Linked DNA regions of Homo sapiens. The protein of the gene in region 2 purifies or fractionates together with the protein of the main gene of each other region. This does not show direct contact. Each region holds a gene or a part of one and is shown on either strand. Other genes may lie near its edges.

Region 1 (4,456 bases), on a different chromosome or scaffold from region 2:
CAGGCATGCGCCACCATGCCCGGCTGATTTTTTGGTATTTTTAGTAGAGATGGGGTTTCACTATGTCGGCCAGGCTGGTTGCGAACTCCTGGCCTCAAGTGATCCGCCCACCTCGGCCTCACAAAGTGCTGGGCTTACAGGCATGAGCCACCGTGCCTGGACTGAAAGTTTATTGCTTAAATCTATTTCAAAATACACTGGAAGTCGTGTGTCTGTAATAGCAAAAAAATATAATCACAAAAGACAGTAAAATCAAAAGGGCATAAGTCACCACAAATAATTATTTACTTAAGAGACAACAAAAATTTAACTTTCTAAATTACAGGGCAATAATTCAGATAAATCTCCTGGACAAGTGATGAGACCATCGTGGGCACAGTAGCATGGAAGCCTTAATAAAGGAAACAGGGCTGGGCGGGGTGGCTCATGTCTGTAATCCCAACACTTTGAGAGGCTGAGGTGGGAGGATGGCTTGAGGCCAGGAGTTTGAGATCATGCTGGGCAACACAGTGAGACCAAGTGTCTACAAAAAACAAAAAAATTAGCTGATCACGGTGGTGTGAGCCAATAGTCCTAGCTACTTAGACACTGAGGCTGCAGTGAGCTATGATCATGCCACTAAACTCCAGCCTGGTCAACAGAGAGACCCTGCCTCTAAAAAATATAAAATAAATAATTAAGGAAGTAGATAGTGGGTAGGGGTGATGTGAATAATTATGGGGACAGTTAGGGCACAAAACAGTCTAATTTAGAGGGTTTATATAAGACAATGCAGAAGGAAAGCTTAAATGGGTTGAAGCAGGTTTCTAGAAAAGTCCCAAATATCAAAAAGTAGTGAGAAGACTCTAGAAATTATTAAACACAGCATGATGAAAATGTTTTAAGAAGACTAATTTTGACCAAGTTAAGAGGCAAACTAGGAGTCTTTCGCACTAACTGTGAAGTGTAAAGTGATGGTGGTATGGACTGTGATGAGGTGACGAGGAATGGAAAGCAAGGGGCAAACTCAATAACCTGGGAAAGAGCAAAAAGTCAGGAGCCAAAAATGTGTGTATGCTTCCTGGCTCTATGCTCTCAAAAGACCTAGAAGCAACAGCACCCTAAGAGCCATGAGCACACCTGAACACTCAGCTTTTCATTTATAAGAGAAATGGCCAGTTCTAAAACTGGAACAGAGAAGGTACAAGATGAGTCTGGAAGATTTTGTGCCAGAAAATAAGGAAATGTTCCAAAAAAAAGAAGAAAGAGGTCAGGCGTGGTGGCTCATGCCTGTAATCCCAGCACTTTGGGAGGCCAAGGAGGGCGGATCACCTGAGGTCGGGGGTTAAAGACCAGGCTGGCCAACGTGGTGAAACCCCGTCTCTACTGAAAATACAAAAATTAGCCGGGTGTGGTGGCGTGTGCCTGTAGTCCCAGCTACTCGGGAGGCTGAGGCAGGAGAATTGCTTGAACCTGGGAGGCAGAGGTTGCAGTGAGCTGAGATCATGCCACTGCATTCTACCCCGGCGACAAAGCAAGACTCCATCTCAAAAAAAAAAAAAAAAAAAAAGAAGAAGAAAAAAAAATGATGAGTACATGTCAAAAGGACACAAGAGCCAGCCTGAAGGACCTCCACTGGCCAAACGTCGAACAATGCACATCAAAATAAAGGAAGACAGTGATGGATCATAACATGTTGAATAAAATAGGACTCCATGAGTCCATATTATAACTAGATAGGGAAATAAATAATGGCAAAGAAAGAATGCCAAATGATAAATGTGGGGTGGTAGAGTTGAGGGAGGATACTGCAACCCGTAGAGGTGCTATGATTTTGTAATCATTATAGTCAAGTTCGATTCAGGCAAGAATCATCAGTGGATGCTACATCCAGGGGTGTGGGATTCAATGATCAGCAGGCTATTTGTACTGGCTAGAAAGATCTCCCTACAGATTGCTTATTAGTTGCAAGGGTAGAGAGTAACTACACAGCAGAGAAGCTGGACAACATCTTGACTACATAGTCAAAACTAACCTTAACAAAGAGGAGCAGTCAGATATCATGTGCCTCTAGCTGTGATTCCTGAAAAGGAGACTTCACGGTGTATTTAAGTTAAGAATATATAACTGAATCTAATGTTAGGCTTCCGAATGATAAGAAAAACCCAAATTGAGGAATATTCTATAAAGTAACTAGTTTGTATTCTTCAGAACTGTTAATGTCAATTAAGACAAAGGCTGAAAAAGCTCCAGATTAAAGATCAAAGAGACATGAAATTAAATGCAATTCAAGATTCTAAACAGGAGGAACATAAAGTACATTATTGGGACAAGTAATAAAACTGAAACATGCACTGTAGATTTCAGTATTTTGCCAATGTTAAATTTCTAAGTGGTTACATAAGAATATCCTTTTTTGATGGGAAATATACACTGAAGTATTAAGAGATCAAGAAGCATAACATATATAGCCTACACTCAAATGGTTCAGAAAAAAACTTATATATGTAAATAAATCTGTATGTGTGTTTGTCAATCTAGGAAAAAGCTATAGAGGAGTTTTCTGTAAAACTCTTACAATTTTTCTATTAAGTGTGAAATGATTTCCAAAGCCAATGACGATAGAAATACCGAACCCAAATTCATTTGGTTTTGCATAGGTTGTGTCTAACAGGAAGAGAAGCCAATCACAGTATTTGGACTAAAATATGGGACTATAGTCAAGGTTGTAGTTTTTTCTGAGACGGAGTCTCGCTCTGTCGCCCAGGCTGGAGTGCAGTGGCGCCATCTCGGCTCACTGCAAGCTCCGACTCCCAGGTTCACGCCATTCTCCTGCCTCAGCCTCCCGAGTAGCTGGGACTACAGGCGCCCGCCACCACGCCCGGCTAATTTTTTGTATTTTTTAGTAGAGACGGGGTTTCACCATGTTAGCCAGGATGGTCTTGATCTCCTGACCTCATGATCCACCCGCCTAGGCCTCCCAAAGTGCTGGGATTACAGGCGTGAGCCACCGCACCCGGCCGAAGTATAGTTTTCAAAGTCATCCAAATAAATAGTTGAGACTGAAAGCCACAGTAACTGTTGTCCTCAAGGAAGATTGTGTGCTTTTTTTTCTGTACAAGACTGTGTCTTTTTTTAATTAGACAGTGGCAAAGACTAACAAACTTACCGCCAGTGTTTTTCAACTCTTCGGCTAAGGGCAATTTTTTCTCCTACCTCTGTGCACACTGGATTGGTCAAAACAATTTTACCCAAATCGGCCTTGACAGCACTAACTCTCCCTCCTGTTGACAGGGATCCTATGTTCACCATGAGCACTTCATTCTTAGACAGCTTTTGAACCTAGAAAAATAAATTAGGGAAAAATAAACCCCAAAATCAAGAAAATGCTTTCCAAATGTAAGTAAGAATTTACCAAATACTATTGGGAAATATGTCAATCATAAAAAAAATTCTATAGAAATTTCATTGTAAAGGAATTTGAACTATATATAGTATAGTTTATTTGGCACCCACTGAATTTACACAAGATCTACCTTTAAAAAATAGGGTAGTAACCGTACCAGAGTACCTCTTAAAATTCTGAAGCAGTTACCTAGTACAAATGAGGTACAAAATTTCCCAAAGAGGGGAGCATGAAGGACTATGGCTATATAAGAGTTAATATGGGCCAGGCGCAGTGGCACACGCCTGTAATCCCAGCACATTGGGAGGCCGAGGAAGGCAGATCACCTGAGTGGGGGGAAAAAAAAGCATGATAGCTTATTTTCCTCAATCTTTGCCAACACTAGGTGTCAGCAATTTCCCATCTCTGCCAACCTAATCTGGGACATTTTTTAAAAATCATGAAGCTGGGCGCAGTGGATCACACCTGTTAATCCCAGCATTTTCGGAGGCTGGGGTGGGCAGATTGCTCAAGCCCAGGAGTTGGAGATCAGCCTGGGTAATGCGGCAAAACTCCGTCTCTACAAAAAATACAAAATTAGCCAGGCGTGGTGACCCACACCTGTAGTCCCAGCAACTCAGGAGGTTAAGGTGGGAGGATGGCTTGAGCTGGGAGATCGAGGCTGCTGTGAGTCGAGATCGCACCACTGCACTCCAGCCTGGGCAACAGAGCAAGACTCTGTCTCAAAATAAACAACAAAACAAAAATATGGATTTTAGGAATATCATGTCTTTGTCATAAATGGCTAATACTTTTCCCTGTTTATTAAGTTTCTTTCTTAAACTAACTGCCATATAGTTCTCAATTTTGGCCGGACGCAGTGGCTCATGCCTGTAATCTCAGCACTTTGGGAGGCCAAGGCGGGCGGATCACTTGAGGTCAGGAGGTCAAGTCCAGCCTGGCTAACATATAGTGAAACCCCATCTCTACTAAAATATACAAAAATTAGCTGGGCGTGCTGGTGCGTGCCTGTAGTCCCATATACTTGGGAAACCGAGGCAAGAGAATTGCTTGAACCCAGGAGGTGGAGGT
Region 2 (5,414 bases):
ACTAAAGACTATGGTCTTAAAACCAACATTTGAAGAGGTTTTTCCTCCTCATTGCTAGGCCAGTTTTCTGAGACCAAAGACAATTTCTTGTTGAAACAGATTTTGCCACTTTAAATATTAATGCCCATCATAATTTTCTCACGCATTCATGTACTAGGGCAATAATTACTATCTGATGAACGTGACAATTCTTAAACTGATCTAATGTAGGTGCCATATATTCTTTGGGAGTCCTTGAATGGATAATGATGATTCTATCACCTAATAGTTTTCTATGTGCCAGGTACTGATCTAAATTCTTTATTAATTCATAAATTGGCACGTTCATGGAGGGAGACAGAAGTTAAGGAAAGCTACTAAGATCATACAGCAAGTAAGAGCTGGAGCTAGGATTTGAACCTAGGCACTGACTCCATAGCTATCATGCTTCTCAATACTATGCTCCATGCTTGTCAACACTATGCTAAGCTGCCTCGTGTATGTCTTGTTTTGACAAAGAACCAACTGCTGAACTTAAAAGAGGCATGTGGAATGCCTCTCCTTAAAAGCCTTATTTTCTTAAAAATAATCCCTTTGTTAAGACTTGTTTTAAATGCTTCTGATTTTACAAAAGGCCTTAGTATGTTGAAACTTATCTATTTATGAGTGAATAAATGAATGATGAGGCCTAACCCTGCCACCCAGGCTGGAATGCAGTGGTGTGATCTCATTGTGGCCTTGACCTCCTGGACTCAAGGGATCCTCCTGCCTCAGCCTCCAGAGTAGCCGGGACTACAGGTGTGTGCCACACCTGGCTAATTTTTTGTAAAGATGGAGTCTCCCTATGTTGCCCAGGCTGGCCTTGAACTCCTGACCTTAAACAATCCTCCTGCCTTGGCCTCCCAAAGTGTTGTGATTATAAGCATGAACCACCATGCCTGGCCCTGTTTTTTACTTTTAATTAATTAACTTTTCTAGAGACAGAGTCTTTCTCTGTTACCCAGGCTGGAGTGCAGTGGCACGATCTTGACTTACTGTAGTTTCCAACTCCTGGACTCAAGCAATCTGCTCACCACAGCTTCCCAAGTAGTTAGGACTACAGGCATGCACCACTATGCCTGGCTAATTTTTTTAAAAGAATTTTTTGTACAGACCTGTGTTGCCTAGGCTGCTCTCAAACTCCTGGGCTTAAGTGATCTTCCTGCCTTGGCCTCCCAAATGCTGGGATTATAGGTATGAGCTACCATACCCTGTTGAAATATTTTATAATGTTGTTTGATATATTTTATTGAAAACTTTTATAATATCAATATTTTTAAAATATTTTATAAGTTGATACATTTTATTAAAATTTTATTCTACATTTCAAATTGAATCAGTAATTGTAAATGACAACTTTATAGACTGCTTAGTAACAGTTACATGTTTAACCTTTGCACATAAATCTGGTTTGAAAAAGATAATACGTTAGTAAATAAGTACATATTTATCCCAATCTTTAAAAACTTTCATGAAACCTAGGATAAATGTATTGAAATTAGATTTCCTGGGCAGTACTAGAAATCTATAAGGCTAAGGAATAGTCACAAAGAGGGAAGAAACTACAAAATGAGAACCCTAAGTATGCTAGATAATCAACTAGGCTGTCTGCATATATGATTTGTATATGAAGGCTGAAGCTCTTTTCCATATTTTAGTTTTTTTATACAAATCTTTATTACATCCTGATTTTCTAGCAAATACAATTAAAAACTCCTCCTCAGAGGAGTCCATAATAAAATGTGTAGTACCTGTGTTACTAGTTTAATAAAATATCCAAATAACTAACCAATTTGTTTAAAATTTATAGTAAGAAACTTATTAAAAACAAAAGACTATCTCTCTTCCAAATATAGGCCAATGTAAATGATTTTCAATATAGATAAACTCAATGTGGGAGTTACATTTGGTTAAATCTGGTGGAGCAAACGTCTAAGAAAATGATTACGTGGCAGACCATGAGGATCAGCTGATTCTCTTCCTCAGCTGAACTATGTCAGATTCCCACAATGAGAACTTCTCTCTTATTGAGGAGGCTCATTAGGAAAGGGTCCATCATCCATCCATCTGCTCACATAAAACCAGCTCCCTCCTGCTGACCCACTCTACCCCCACATTAAAAACTACAAGGTAGTGTGCTTTTATGGCTGTTTCACTGGAGACCATAAGTTTGAGTTGAATTATTCAACGTGAGGGTCACGGTGAGAGAACGTGGATCTTTCTTATTCTTGTGAACTGTGACCTTTCCTTTCAAGGCTTCACCTGTAAAACAAAGGCAAAAATTGTTAAGAATTCAAGGAATACAGTGTAGCAGAAAAGTAAACAATGTATAACTAGCACTTCTTTTTATTGTGATGTTTTCCCACTTTTTAAACTTTATTTAAGGTTAATATTCTTTTTTTTTTTTTTTTTTTTTAAGATGGAGTCTCACTCTGTCACCCAGGCTGGAGTGCGGTGGTGTGATCTCAGCTCACTGCATTCTCCCAGGCTGGAGTGCACTGGTGCAAGCTTGGCTCACTGCAACCTCCGCCTCCTGGGTTCAAGAGATTTTCCTGCCTCAGCTTCCCGAATAGCTGGGACTACAGGCGCATGCCACCATGCCCAGCTAATTTTTTATTTTTAGTAGAGATGGGGTTTCACCATGTTGGCCAGGCTGGTCTCGAACTCCTGACCTCAGGTGATCCACCCGCCTCAGCCTCCCAAAGTGCTGGGAATACAGGAATGAGCCATTGTGCCCAGCCAATATTCATTTTTTAGAGCAGCATTATGTTTCATTAATTTTTTTTTTAAGACAGTCTCTCTCTGTTGCCCAGGCTAGAGTGCAGTGGTACAATCCCAGTTGACTGCAACCTCTGCCTCCCGTGTTCAAGTGATTTCTCCTGCCTCAGCCTCCCAAGTAGCTGGGATTACAGGCATGCGCCACCATGACCTGCTAATTTTGTATTTTTAGTAGAGACAAGGTTTTGCCATTTTGGCCAGGCTGGTCTAGAACTCCTGACCTCAGGTGATGCGCTCACCTACCTCAGCCTCCCAAAGTGCTGGGATTACAGGCGTAAGCCACTGCGCCCAGCCCTGTTTCATTAATTTTTGAATGAAGCGAGAACTAACTACATACCACAGTGTCAAATCCTTGTGAAAGTGAGTAAAACTATTGTGGTCATAAAGGGTCAATGGAAGCATTTTACTGAACTTCTAAATATGAGGCCCTATGGTGGGTTCTGGGCATCTAGAAAAAAGATATGGTCCCTGCCCTCAAAGAGTTTGTGATCAGGGTGAAGAAAAAAGCTATACTAACAATTACACAATAGGCATGTGTCTAAAGTGTGCTGGAGGTGAGCACTGGGGATGGTTGGAAGGCAGTTAAAGGCAAGGTTTCACAAGAATTAATGAATTACCCAATGCCAGGGCTGAAGTCATGGAGAACCAGGCTTAAGGGATGTACATGTAATGGTATTTAAGGAAAACACATACACAGAACCTTCAGGAATGGCATTTTGAGGAACTGAAAATTATAGCTGGGAAAATGTAGAGGCACATGACAAAGCCATTGGCCATTGATGCACTGGTGCTGTAAAAGGGAAACAATGTACCCATGTGAAACAGTGAACACACAAAAATTACTTACCTGTGCAAAGGCTGATTTCCTAAATTCTGTAGGTTCCAAATTTTTATCTATGTACTTTTCTAATTATAAATACTTCTCATTTAATTTTTCATTTATTTTAAAGAGCTGTTTAAAAAGTAACAAATTGCTAAGTTGTAGTTGATCACCATTCTTTGCTTAAATAATATTAAGATAACACCAAACAGTGTCAGGAATAGCTTTAGCATCTGCATGGACACAATGAGGCTCCATATAATGACCAAGGAAATCTACATAAAACTATTGAAGTACTGAATGAATATCGTATTTAAAAAAATACAAATTCCCCATATTCAAGGAAAATTATCTGAATGCTTTTCAAGATGGTAGTGAAATAACACAAGTAAAACATAACCACCTGTTATATTTATTTTCAGAATATAAAGATTCCATTACTGATACCTTCTCTACATCTTTGCAAAAAAGGTGAGACTCACAGTTTAACACATAATTAAGGAGTTAAATAATAGAAGAAATAATGTGGCCCAAGGTGCAATCCATTCAACAAAATATAACAATTTTTGTGTACGTATATATGTTAATGTGTATATTTGGCTTTAGCTTTTATATCTGACCTATTCCTCTATATTAAGAAAATGATATAAAACTATCTCATATGACATGTTCACCAATAGTGGACATAATAAAGATTACCAGTCAGATAGTTCTACAAACTTTATGGAGTTCAGGTTAATCATTAGATAATTTATGCTTATATTTATTCAACACTTACTTTGTGCTAGGCTCTACTCTAAGGTCTTTACATGATTTATCTCACTTAATGGTCACAAAATATTGCTATGAGGTAAGCGCATTTTCCTTACTCACAGATGAAGTTCAGAAAAGGTAAGTAATTTGCCCAAGGTCATCTGCCAGCTAGTGAAAGAACTAGGATTTTCAGCAAGGCAGTTTGATTCCAGAACCCAAGTTCCTCAACTATACTCTGGTGCTTCCCTATCTCTATCTAAAAAAATGATGATTATAGCTTTAAATATACTATAATGAATAAGAAATAGACCTAAATTTTACCGCCCCGTGGGTTTTGTTTTTTTTTTTTGGTAAAAATATTTACTTGTTTATAAACACAATTGATATGTAAGTTGATGTAACTATTATTCTATAATAACTAATGAACAATGATACACGTTTTCTTATCTAAGGCATTAACCTAAGGAAGAAATAAAAGATCATTAGTATATTGAACACATTTAAGATTTTCCTATTTTGACTTTTCTATTTTGGCTATTTTATTTGCTTCTTTTTAAATCAACATTTAAAAACTTCTATTTAAGTTATTTATTGACACCAAAACTGGGAACGAACAGCCACATTATGATAAACTGACAATGTTTTTGTAAATACATGACAGAGAATAGTAATTGCCAACTTGGTTATTGGGTTTAACTTACTGTTATTGAATTGCCAACACTGAATCAACAAACTTGATTTTTACAACACAGTGGCTTGTTAGTTCCTTTTTACTTACAAGCAGTATGTCTTATACAAATTACTTAATTTAGTTGCTGGTATAAAGTAGTTCACATATGAAAAGACAGATAATGGACACTTGAGATTCAAAAATAACAAAATGACCTCCAGAGACCCAACATAAAGTAAGTATTCTATTAGATGTCCTAGTCAGGACATTAAAGTGTGGAGGGAAAAAGGATACAGACTGGGGGAGGGGGAATTAAAGTTTTCATTTGCATACTACCTGGTTTTATACATAGAAAATCCTGAAGCTATATGCAAA
Region 3 (4,456 bases), on a different chromosome or scaffold from region 2:
AGCCGGGGAGGAGGCTACCAGGGAGAAGCACCTGGTATAATGCATTTAACCCAGAGTTCTTCAAGCATTTCTCATTGCTACTGAGCATGAATCTTGGTGAGGTGTTTATTCTCTGAGATCTGAGGATTTGAGCCATGAGGCACCCAACACTCAGGCTTTTCCCCTAATCTGTAGTCATTCTACAGAAACAATAGGACTGTGCCTAATTTAATAGAAAATAGATAGAAAGATATTGATGGCAAAGTGGATGAATTACATTTGGGGGAGATTTAGAGAGTAAGGAAGGAGAGTTTGAATAGTAACATGAAAGGACAGTAGGGCCAGTAAGATGTGACTTGTGGACATTTATTGTCTAAGTATGTTTTGAAGGAAGAAGGAAGTATGGGACAAGGCATTGAGGATGCAAGAAATGAAGTCACCTGGCTAAGAGAGGAAGGACTGGCTGAAGAGAGGAGAATAGAGTCTAGGGAGGAATGAGATCCAGCAAGAGATAGGGTCAGCTGGGGCATTTTCTTACCAGAGATCTGCAATCTCCTAAGACAGGTGTTCCCAACCCCTGGGCTGCAGACCAGTACCCATCCATGGCCTGTTAGGAATCGGGCTGCACAGCAGGAGGGGAGCAGTGGGCCAGTGAGCATTATGGCCTGAGCTCCGCCTCCTGTCAGATTAGCGGCAGCATTAGATTCTCATAGGAGTGGGAACCCTATTGTGAACTGCATGCAAAGGATCAAGGTTGCGTGCTCCTTATGAGAAAATAATGCCTGATGATCTGAGGTGGAACAGCTTCATCCCAAAACTATCCCCTCCACCCCATCTGTGGAAAAATTGCCTTCCACAAAGGTACCAAAAAGGTTGGGGACAGCTGGCCTAAGAAGAGTAGGAACTGAGACATCCTGCTGGAGGGACCATGGGGGTGGGAGGCAATGAACAACTGAAGAGAGATTTACATTTGTGGGGTTTCTAGAAAAAGACCAACAAATATGACTGCAAGAATGTTCTGGCAGCCCTGGGTCCTGTCCGGGTTGTTAAGCATTAATCCACAGGTTTGTAATGGTGAGTTTTCTGTGGTTCTGCACCTCGCTTTGGCAAAGTTCTTTGATTCTGGAACAGTAGTAGCTGCATAGAAAGTGGTGGCAGTGGGTGTGACCTTTAATTGAGAATTAGAATGTCAGGAGCTCCCAGGGTCAAGGAAATCATCATGAGTGGAGGAGTATTTGAAGCTACCCTCCTGTCATGGGGTCCAGGCTGGATGAGAGACTCAGTGGGCCTGGGCATGTTCTCATGAAGTTGGGAAGGTAGGTGCCTGAAGGATTCTGGTGTGGCTGAATGACAGGTTCTTTGGGTGTGGGACAGTGGGAGAGGCGACTAATAAGGAGGCTGTGGTCAGAGAGGGGAATGCAAATTTGTGGATGGGGTGAGAGCCATGACATGCTAAGTTCCAGGGTGTGCCCAGGATGGTATGCAGATGAAGTGTTTGTGCGGTGTCCTGACTGACAAAAATCATGTTCTGTGTGTTGGCCAGGAATAGTATTCAGCAATTAGGTTTATGACTAAGGGGAGTGTGTGTGTGTGTGTGTGTGTGTGTGTGTGTGTGTGTGTTTGTTGTGTGCATGCACATTGCATGTATAGTAGCCCTTACCTCTAAAAACAATTAAATAACATTTCTTTCCTTCTCATAAATATGCTCACAATTCTCATCAAAATGCTTATTAACATATTATATAAGATAATGGATCAGCAATAATGATCCGGAGGCTTTTGCTGTTGGGCCATTCATTTATTTGGTTCTTCGTTATACAGATTGTGGCTTTTCATGAATGGGCCTGTGTATGGCTCTGTCTTTCTGGATGTGTCCCTCTTAGCTCCATTCTATTTTATTAATTTCCCAAAGGGCAGGCACTATTTTATGTCCCTGCTACCCCCATAGCAATTCACACAGTTCTGTCTACCTAATCAATGTTTTCTGAATGAAAAGACCACAGTTGTTTTCCATCCTGACAACTTGTCTCCCCAAATAGGAAAGATGAGTATAGCAATGACATCAGCTAATACGGAGAATCTTGGAAGAGGGTTTTCTTCCAAGTGTACTTTAGTACATGGTGCTACAATGACATGTTCAGTCTCTGTTATCTTCAGAATGGGAAAACTCATTTCTCCTGCCTTCAAAAACATTCAAGTTTTCTCAATTGCCATCCCTTGTTTGCCTTTCTTTTCTTTCTGCCCTCATCCAATATTCCTCTTTCACTGTGATATCAAATTCCTTGGTCATGCAGTTATCATTTGTCTTTGACACTCTTCCCTTTTCTATGTGATGATCTTTTTCTTCCTTCTTTCTCTCCTTCTAATGGGGTTCTTCAGTTGGCCTTCCACTAAGAAGCTCTCTGAGAAGTCCAAGGAAAGCTGATAAACTTCAGCTCCTCTGAGAATACTTCCACTTTAACAGGTGATTTTAAAAAACAGAGATACATTCAAAAATAAAAAATAATAAAACTAGCAAGTAAGTGACAGGTAGTGGAGATTGTCCCTAAATTACTAGCATCTATCCATTTTCCCTATTCCTGCATGGGGACCTAACTGTAATTTTGGAGAAGGAATTGACTCAAGTTTCTCACCTATAAAGCGGTTATAATAATACCTGCCTCTTGGGGCTGTTTGTAGGGGCATAAATGATATAATTGACGTGAAAGTGCTTCCTAAACTACAAAGAGTTTTCCAACTCTTCCTCTACCTTCTAACACTGAATTGGAAATTGTGCCCTAAGGCTCACTCCTGCAAGAGAGGGCAGATAAGTGATAATTGGGGCTTTAACACCAGAGGAGCTGAACTGCCTCACAGTAATTATTCACCTGAAAGGAAGGAGGTTTGACCAGCAATCTCTAACATCTTTTCTGGTCCAAAACCTGTGATTATAAAAAAAGCACTTAATTGGATATTGTTTTATATTATGTTCCAGATATCTCGATTTTCCCAACTACCCTGTAAACTCCTAGAGGCCAGGGGCCATATCTTATAGACCTCATGTAGCTTCTATAATAATTAGCATAATGCTAGACACCTAGGAGATATACAAGAAATGCACCTACTATGAAATGATTCAGTGATATTCATTTCCTGTATTTATTTATTTATTTATTTTTTGAAACAGAGTCTCGCTTTGTTGGCCAGGCTGGAGTGCAGTGGCGTGATCATGGCTCACTGCATCCTCAACTTCCTGAGTGCAAGTGATTCTCTCACCTAAGCCTCCCAAGTAGCTGGGACTACAGGCGTGTACTACCTGGCTATTTTTTTGTATTTTGGAGGGGGTAGAGACAGGGTTTTGTCATGATGCCCTTGAACCACCCAGATCAAGCAATCTGCCCGCTTCTGCCTTCTAAAGTGCTGGGATTACAGCCGAGAGCCACCGCACCAGTCCTTCTAAGGAGTAAAAAATTTTATTTTGGCTGGGCGCGGTGGCTCACGCCTGTAATCCCAGCACTTTGGGAGGCCAAGGCGGGTGGATCATGAGGTCAGGAGATCGAGACCATCCTGGCTAACATGGTGAAACCCCGTCTCTACTAAAAAATACAAAAAATTAGCCAGGCATGGTGGCGGGCGCCTGTAGTCCCACCTACTCGGGGGGCTGAGGCAGGAGAATGGCGTGAACCCGGGAGGCGGAGCTTGCAGTGAGCCGAGACCGTGCCACCGCACTCCAGCCTGGGCGACAGAGCGAGATTCCGTCAAAAAAAAAATTAAATTTTAAATTTTTAATTTTTTTTTACTTTTTGAAATGGAGTCTCGCTCTGTCATCCAGGCTGGAGTGCAGTGGCACAGTCTCGGCTCACTCCAACCTCCACCTCCTGAGCTCAAGCAATTCTCCTGCCTCAGCCTCCTGAGTAGCTGGGACTACAGGCGCCCGTCACCACGCCCAGCTAATTTTCTAGTTTTAGTAGAAAACTAGAAAGTAGAAAGCTATGTTGGCCAGGCTGGTCTTGAACTCTTGACCTCAGGTGATCCGCCTGCCTTGGCCTCCTATATGGACTTAACTGTGAGGCTGGTGCTTCCACTGAGAAGACAAACTTACCACACTCTCTCCATTCAGTGTATTTCCGTTTCCTAACAAAGCTCCTCTGTGTTCTGCCACTGTGTGGTAGAGAGGGCAGGCAGTCAAACACTGGGGGTGAGCTAACTTCTTAACTAGGTGACTCTTTTTTTTTTTTTTTTTTTTGAGATGGAATCTTGTTCTGTGGCCCAGGCTGGAGTGCAATGTCATGATCTTGGCTCACTGTGGCCTCCGCCTCCCGGGTTCAAGTGATTCTCCTGCCTCAGCCTCTGGGTAGCTGGGATTACAGGCACCTGCCACCACGCCGGGCTAATTTTTGTATTTTTAGTAGAGACAGGGTTTCACCATGTTGGCCAGGCTGGTCTCGAACTCCTGACCTCATGTGATCTGCCCGCCTCAGCCTTCCAAAGTGCTGGG
Region 4 (4,456 bases), on a different chromosome or scaffold from region 2:
ATGTGATTAAAAAAAAAAAAAGAAACAAAGATCAAAGATCCTATTTGGTTTAGGTGAGCATTTCAGCAGGGAGGGAGACAACTCATGACTCACCTTAATGGGCATGTTTTCTGTAGAACAATTCAAACCTGCTCTTAGGGCTTCTTTTACAGCATCAATGCCTTCATAACCATAACAAGCCACTTCAATATCTACAATTACAAAAATTCAAAAGTTGATAAAAAATGCAAAAAATATTTAAAAGTTTAAAGGAAATCAAACACGTGGCAGATATATTAGTATTCAAATACTTATACTGAATCCAACCTCTCTATACTGCAGTTCCTTATTTATAAAAGGGAGGCAAGGAGGAGTGTGGTAAAGATGGAATATAACAATAACTGCAACTTATCTAAAACGGTTTAGAAATTGCATTACCCTTTGACTCAGAAATTCTACTTTTAGGAATTTGTCTTGAAGAACATTTGTGTAAATGGTTAAGTATGTATAATATAAGGGTGCTAATTTGTAGCATTTTTTTGTAACTGTGAGAAAACTGGCACAACCTAAATGTTCATCAGGAGGGGACGGGTTTATGTTAAGGTTTATCTGTTCTATGAAACATTACCCAGCATAAAAAAGAATGAGAAAGATTCCTATGTTCTGCAATGGAAGGGTACCTATGATACACTGGGTGGAAAAGGCTAGTTGGAGAAAATTCCGCATGGTATGTCTCATCTTTGTAAAAATTTGGAATATTTTAAAGTATGCACTAAAACAAAACAATCAAACCCCTCTTTTTAAAAAAAGGGCTACCTTTAGGTTAGCTGAACTCACAAGACTGTTTCTACTTGTGTCAATATATAAATTTTATGATTCAGAAGCCAAAATAATTTCTTAAGCTTTTGTTATAAAAAACAACCATTTAGAAAAATTTATAGATGTTGATGTAGCAACATATTCTTTGGTAAGTCTCATTATTTAATAGCTTTTTTGATGCATGCAAAATACTGTAAAAATCATTTAAAAAATCATTTACCTGCTCGAATTTTGACAGCCTGTGGGGTCAAGCGCCTATTAATATTATTAATGAGTACTTCCCGTTCATCTTCATTCAAATCTAAACTATCCAAAATAGATGGGTCTCTGGTCAAAAACATAAATAAATAACAAAAGGTCAAGGTTATATTACTGATAAATGTGAAACCAAACACTATGGAACAATGCATATAATAGTTAAGCATATAATAGTTAATGCATATAATAGTTAAGGCTTTAGTGTCACAATTAGAATTCAAATCTTAGCTTTGCACTTACACCCCAACTGATTATTAGTGAAATCAAAATTTTAGTGATCTGACTAAAACAAGCAATTTAATGCCTAACACATCTGATATTCTACTATAATTGATTACTTCCATGCAATTAGCTGTCCCTGCCTCAAGGAGTTTATAATCTATCTTGAATAGAAAAAAAAAACATGGAAAAACTTTTAAATGTAACAGTACATCTGTGGGCATCAGGACAGAAAGGTATTACTTCCAGTTAATGAGGTCAGGAAGGGCTTCATGCAAAAAGTAGCATTTCATCTGACCCTCCTAAGTGCCACAGGACAGGGACCAGGGTCTTATTAACTGGCATGTTTGTTGAATGAGTGAGCAAATGAAAATATGAAATAAAGACTAAAAGAGGAGTAGCACTGTAAAAAGTAAAGGTAGAACTATTGTAAAAAAGTTATGATACATAAGGCTGGGCACCAGTGACTCATGCCTGTAATCCCAGCACTTTGGGAGGCTGAGGCAGGGGGATCACTGGAGACCAGGAGTTCATAGACCAGTCTAGGCAACATAGCAAGACCTCCATCTCTATTAAAAAGAAAAAAAGACACTTTGGGAGGCCGAGGCGGGCGGATCACGAGGTCAGGAGATCGAGACCATCCCGGCTAAAACGGTGAAACCTCGTCTCTACTAAAAATACAAAAAATTAGCCGGGCGTAGTGGCGGGCGCCTGTAGTCCCAGCTATTTGGGAGGCTGAGGCAGGAGAATGGTGTGAACCCGGGAGGCGGAGCTTGCAGTGAGCCGAGATCCCGCCACTGCACTCCAGCCTGGGCGACAGAGCGAGACTCCGTCTCAAAAAAAAAAAAAAAAAAGAAAAAGAAAAAAAGAAAGTTATGTCATGTAAAAAAGGAATAGCATGAGCAAGCATCAGGCTTAATAAGCAAGGGGTCTTATTGGGAATAAAAGGCAAGAGAATTTGGGTGGAGGGAACTTTTACTCAGCTAACATAAAGTAACGAGAAGACAACCAACATAAATGTATAAGAAACAAGATGATAAACAGAAAATGGGCAAATGAGGTGAACAGATGTTTCACAGAAGAAATACAAATGGTTAAGAAACATGAAAAACTGTTGACCTCTCCAACAATCAGGAGTATGCAAATCAAAAGATACTACTGTGAATTCATTAGACTAGAAAAAGGAGAAAAAATCAGATATATACCAAATTGTGGCAAGGATTTGGTGAAACCAAGTCAGTTTAAAGATATATAATCAATCCTATGACCCAACAATTCCACTCCTAGGCATATATATTAGAAACTCTCAAACAACTACATATAGAGACACATACACTATTCATCACAGCCCTGTTTGACAAATGGCACAGAAGGGAAAATTACCTAAACAACTCTTAATAGAGGAACAGATAAAGCATATTCTCACAATGAAATACTATATAGAGATTAATATGGATCAAGTATACATCTATCATTGTGGGGGAATCCTGCTTAATAATAGGCTTATATGTAAAAATGCAAGCTACAAAAAGATACAATAGGTTACATTTTAAATAAAAAATGATAATAGACACATATGTAGTAAAACAATAAAAACAAATGATATTGATACATAATTTCAGAATAGTGGTTATCACTGATAAGTGAGGAAAATAGGTCTGGAAAGGTAAAACATTGTTTCCAACTATGTCAGAAATTTTATGTAATTAAAAGAAAAATGCAAAGAACTAGCATTAGTTAAATCTGGACAGTCCCTACATGAATGAAGCAAGAAAAGAGTGCTAAGGAAAAGGGAATAACACACGCCAAGGTTTAGTGGTAACAAGGGGTTGCTGGAACTAGAAGTTAAAGAGGTAACTAAAGAAGCCAGATGATGACAGTTGAGACAAGTTAAGAAATGTACTGAGGACTGCAGGACAGAAATATAAAGTTGTGTTTAATGGCTAATAGTGCAAACTCTGGATGGAGCCAGAATGCACGCGTTTGAATACTGCCTGGCTCTATGATTTGTTAGCTGTGTGACCTTGAACAAATTATTTAATCTCAGCTTCAGTTTCTTCAACTGTAAGAAAAGGATAATAATAGCATTTATACCACAGGTTGTTGTTAGAATTATATAAATGTTAGTTATCATTATTACTATTCCCACCTTTTCTACCACGTGATATACCAAAAAAAAAAAAAAAAAAAAAAAGTCACATGAGAATAAACTTGAAGGGATTTGGAACCCCAGATGAGTTGGCTTTCTGGGGGACTCTTAATGGTCTTGGGTCCTACTCATTCTCTTTTTTCCCCCCTCTAACTCTTAACATTTAGGAAGGAGTGGGAGGTAAAGAGACAGCAAGTATAGAGAACTGAAAGAGTCTGGCTTTTTTTTTTTTTTTAAGAGACAAGGTCTCACTCTGTCATCCAGACTAGAGTGCAGTGGTGCAATCACAAATCACAGCTCACAGAAACCTCAAACCACTGGACTCAAGTGATCCTCCTGCCTCAGCCTCCCAAGTTGCTGGGACTACTACAGGCAAATGCTACCACACCTGGCTACTTTTAATTTTTTTTTTTTTTAGAGATGGCAGTCTTGCTATGCTGCCCAGGATGGTCTCCAACTCCTGGCCTCAAGCAATCCTCCCACCTCAGCCTTACATAGTGCTGGGATTACAGGCATGAGCTACCACACATAGCCAAGTGTGGCTGTTAAAAGCAGAGGACGCAGTGTTTGCTCCAAGAGAAAGTAAAGGAAAAGTTGAGAAGTGGGTTTTATAGTATAAATGGAAGAAACTAGAGATATTTTTATGCTGATGGAGTAAAAGCAATAAAGGGAAAGGTGACCCAAGAGAAAAAGTAACTAATAGAGATCTCTGAGCAGCAGCTGGGCATAGGTGGCAAGACTAGTTTGAGAGCAATTAGGACACAAATTCCAGTGACAGCAGCATAGGAAGAAATGACAGGTGGGACAGAGATATGTAAGTTTGTTGAGACAGTGGAAAAGTAGTTCTTGTGCAATGGTTTCTATTTTCTTTATAAAATAAAATAGGTAGTGAGCATACCAGCCAAGAGGCAGGGAGCAGGGATAGAGTGGTTTTCTGAGGAAGAACGTGGAAAAGCTCTAAAATAGCCACTACTGAAGAACTGACCAGGAGCAGAGAGAATGTGGAACAGCTGAGGCTGGAGACCATGAATA

What was found. The genes of interacting proteins can lie anywhere in the genome.
Region 1: the proteins of PRMT3 (region 2) and EIF2S3 purify together in Homo sapiens (affinity purification with mass spectrometry, with the first as the bait; one large-scale study listed by BioGRID). This does not show direct contact.
Region 3: the proteins of PRMT3 (region 2) and CSTA purify together in Homo sapiens (affinity purification with mass spectrometry; one large-scale study listed by BioGRID and IntAct). This does not show direct contact.
Region 4: the proteins of PRMT3 (region 2) and EIF2S1 purify together in Homo sapiens (affinity purification with mass spectrometry, with the first as the bait; one large-scale study listed by BioGRID). This does not show direct contact.

Annotation. Positions count from the first base shown.
Region 1 is NC_000023.11:24,071,956-24,076,411, reverse strand, and holds part of EIF2S3 (eukaryotic translation initiation factor 2 subunit 3), read right to left. Parts: intron 3,322-4,456; coding exon 3,149-3,321; intron 1-3,148. UniProt on the Homo sapiens protein: Member of the eIF2 complex that functions in the early steps of protein synthesis by forming a ternary complex with GTP and initiator tRNA.
Region 2 is NC_000011.10:20,505,170-20,510,583, reverse strand, and holds the end of PRMT3 (protein arginine N-methyltransferase 3), read right to left. Parts: intron 2,281-5,414; coding exon 2,171-2,280; 3' UTR 1,246-2,170; downstream 1-1,245. UniProt on the Homo sapiens protein: Protein-arginine N-methyltransferase that catalyzes both the monomethylation and asymmetric dimethylation of the guanidino nitrogens of arginine residues in target proteins, and therefore falls into the group of type I methyltransferases.
Region 3 is NC_000003.12:122,328,248-122,332,703, reverse strand, and holds part of CSTA (cystatin-A), read right to left. Parts: intron 1-4,456. UniProt on the Homo sapiens protein: This is an intracellular thiol proteinase inhibitor. Has an important role in desmosome-mediated cell-cell adhesion in the lower levels of the epidermis.
Region 4 is NC_000014.9:67,377,328-67,381,783, reverse strand, and holds part of EIF2S1 (eukaryotic translation initiation factor 2 subunit 1), read right to left. Parts: intron 1,126-4,456; coding exon 1,019-1,125; intron 192-1,018; coding exon 94-191; intron 1-93. UniProt on the Homo sapiens protein: Member of the eIF2 complex that functions in the early steps of protein synthesis by forming a ternary complex with GTP and initiator tRNA. This complex binds to a 40S ribosomal subunit, followed by mRNA binding to form a 43S pre-initiation complex (43S PIC).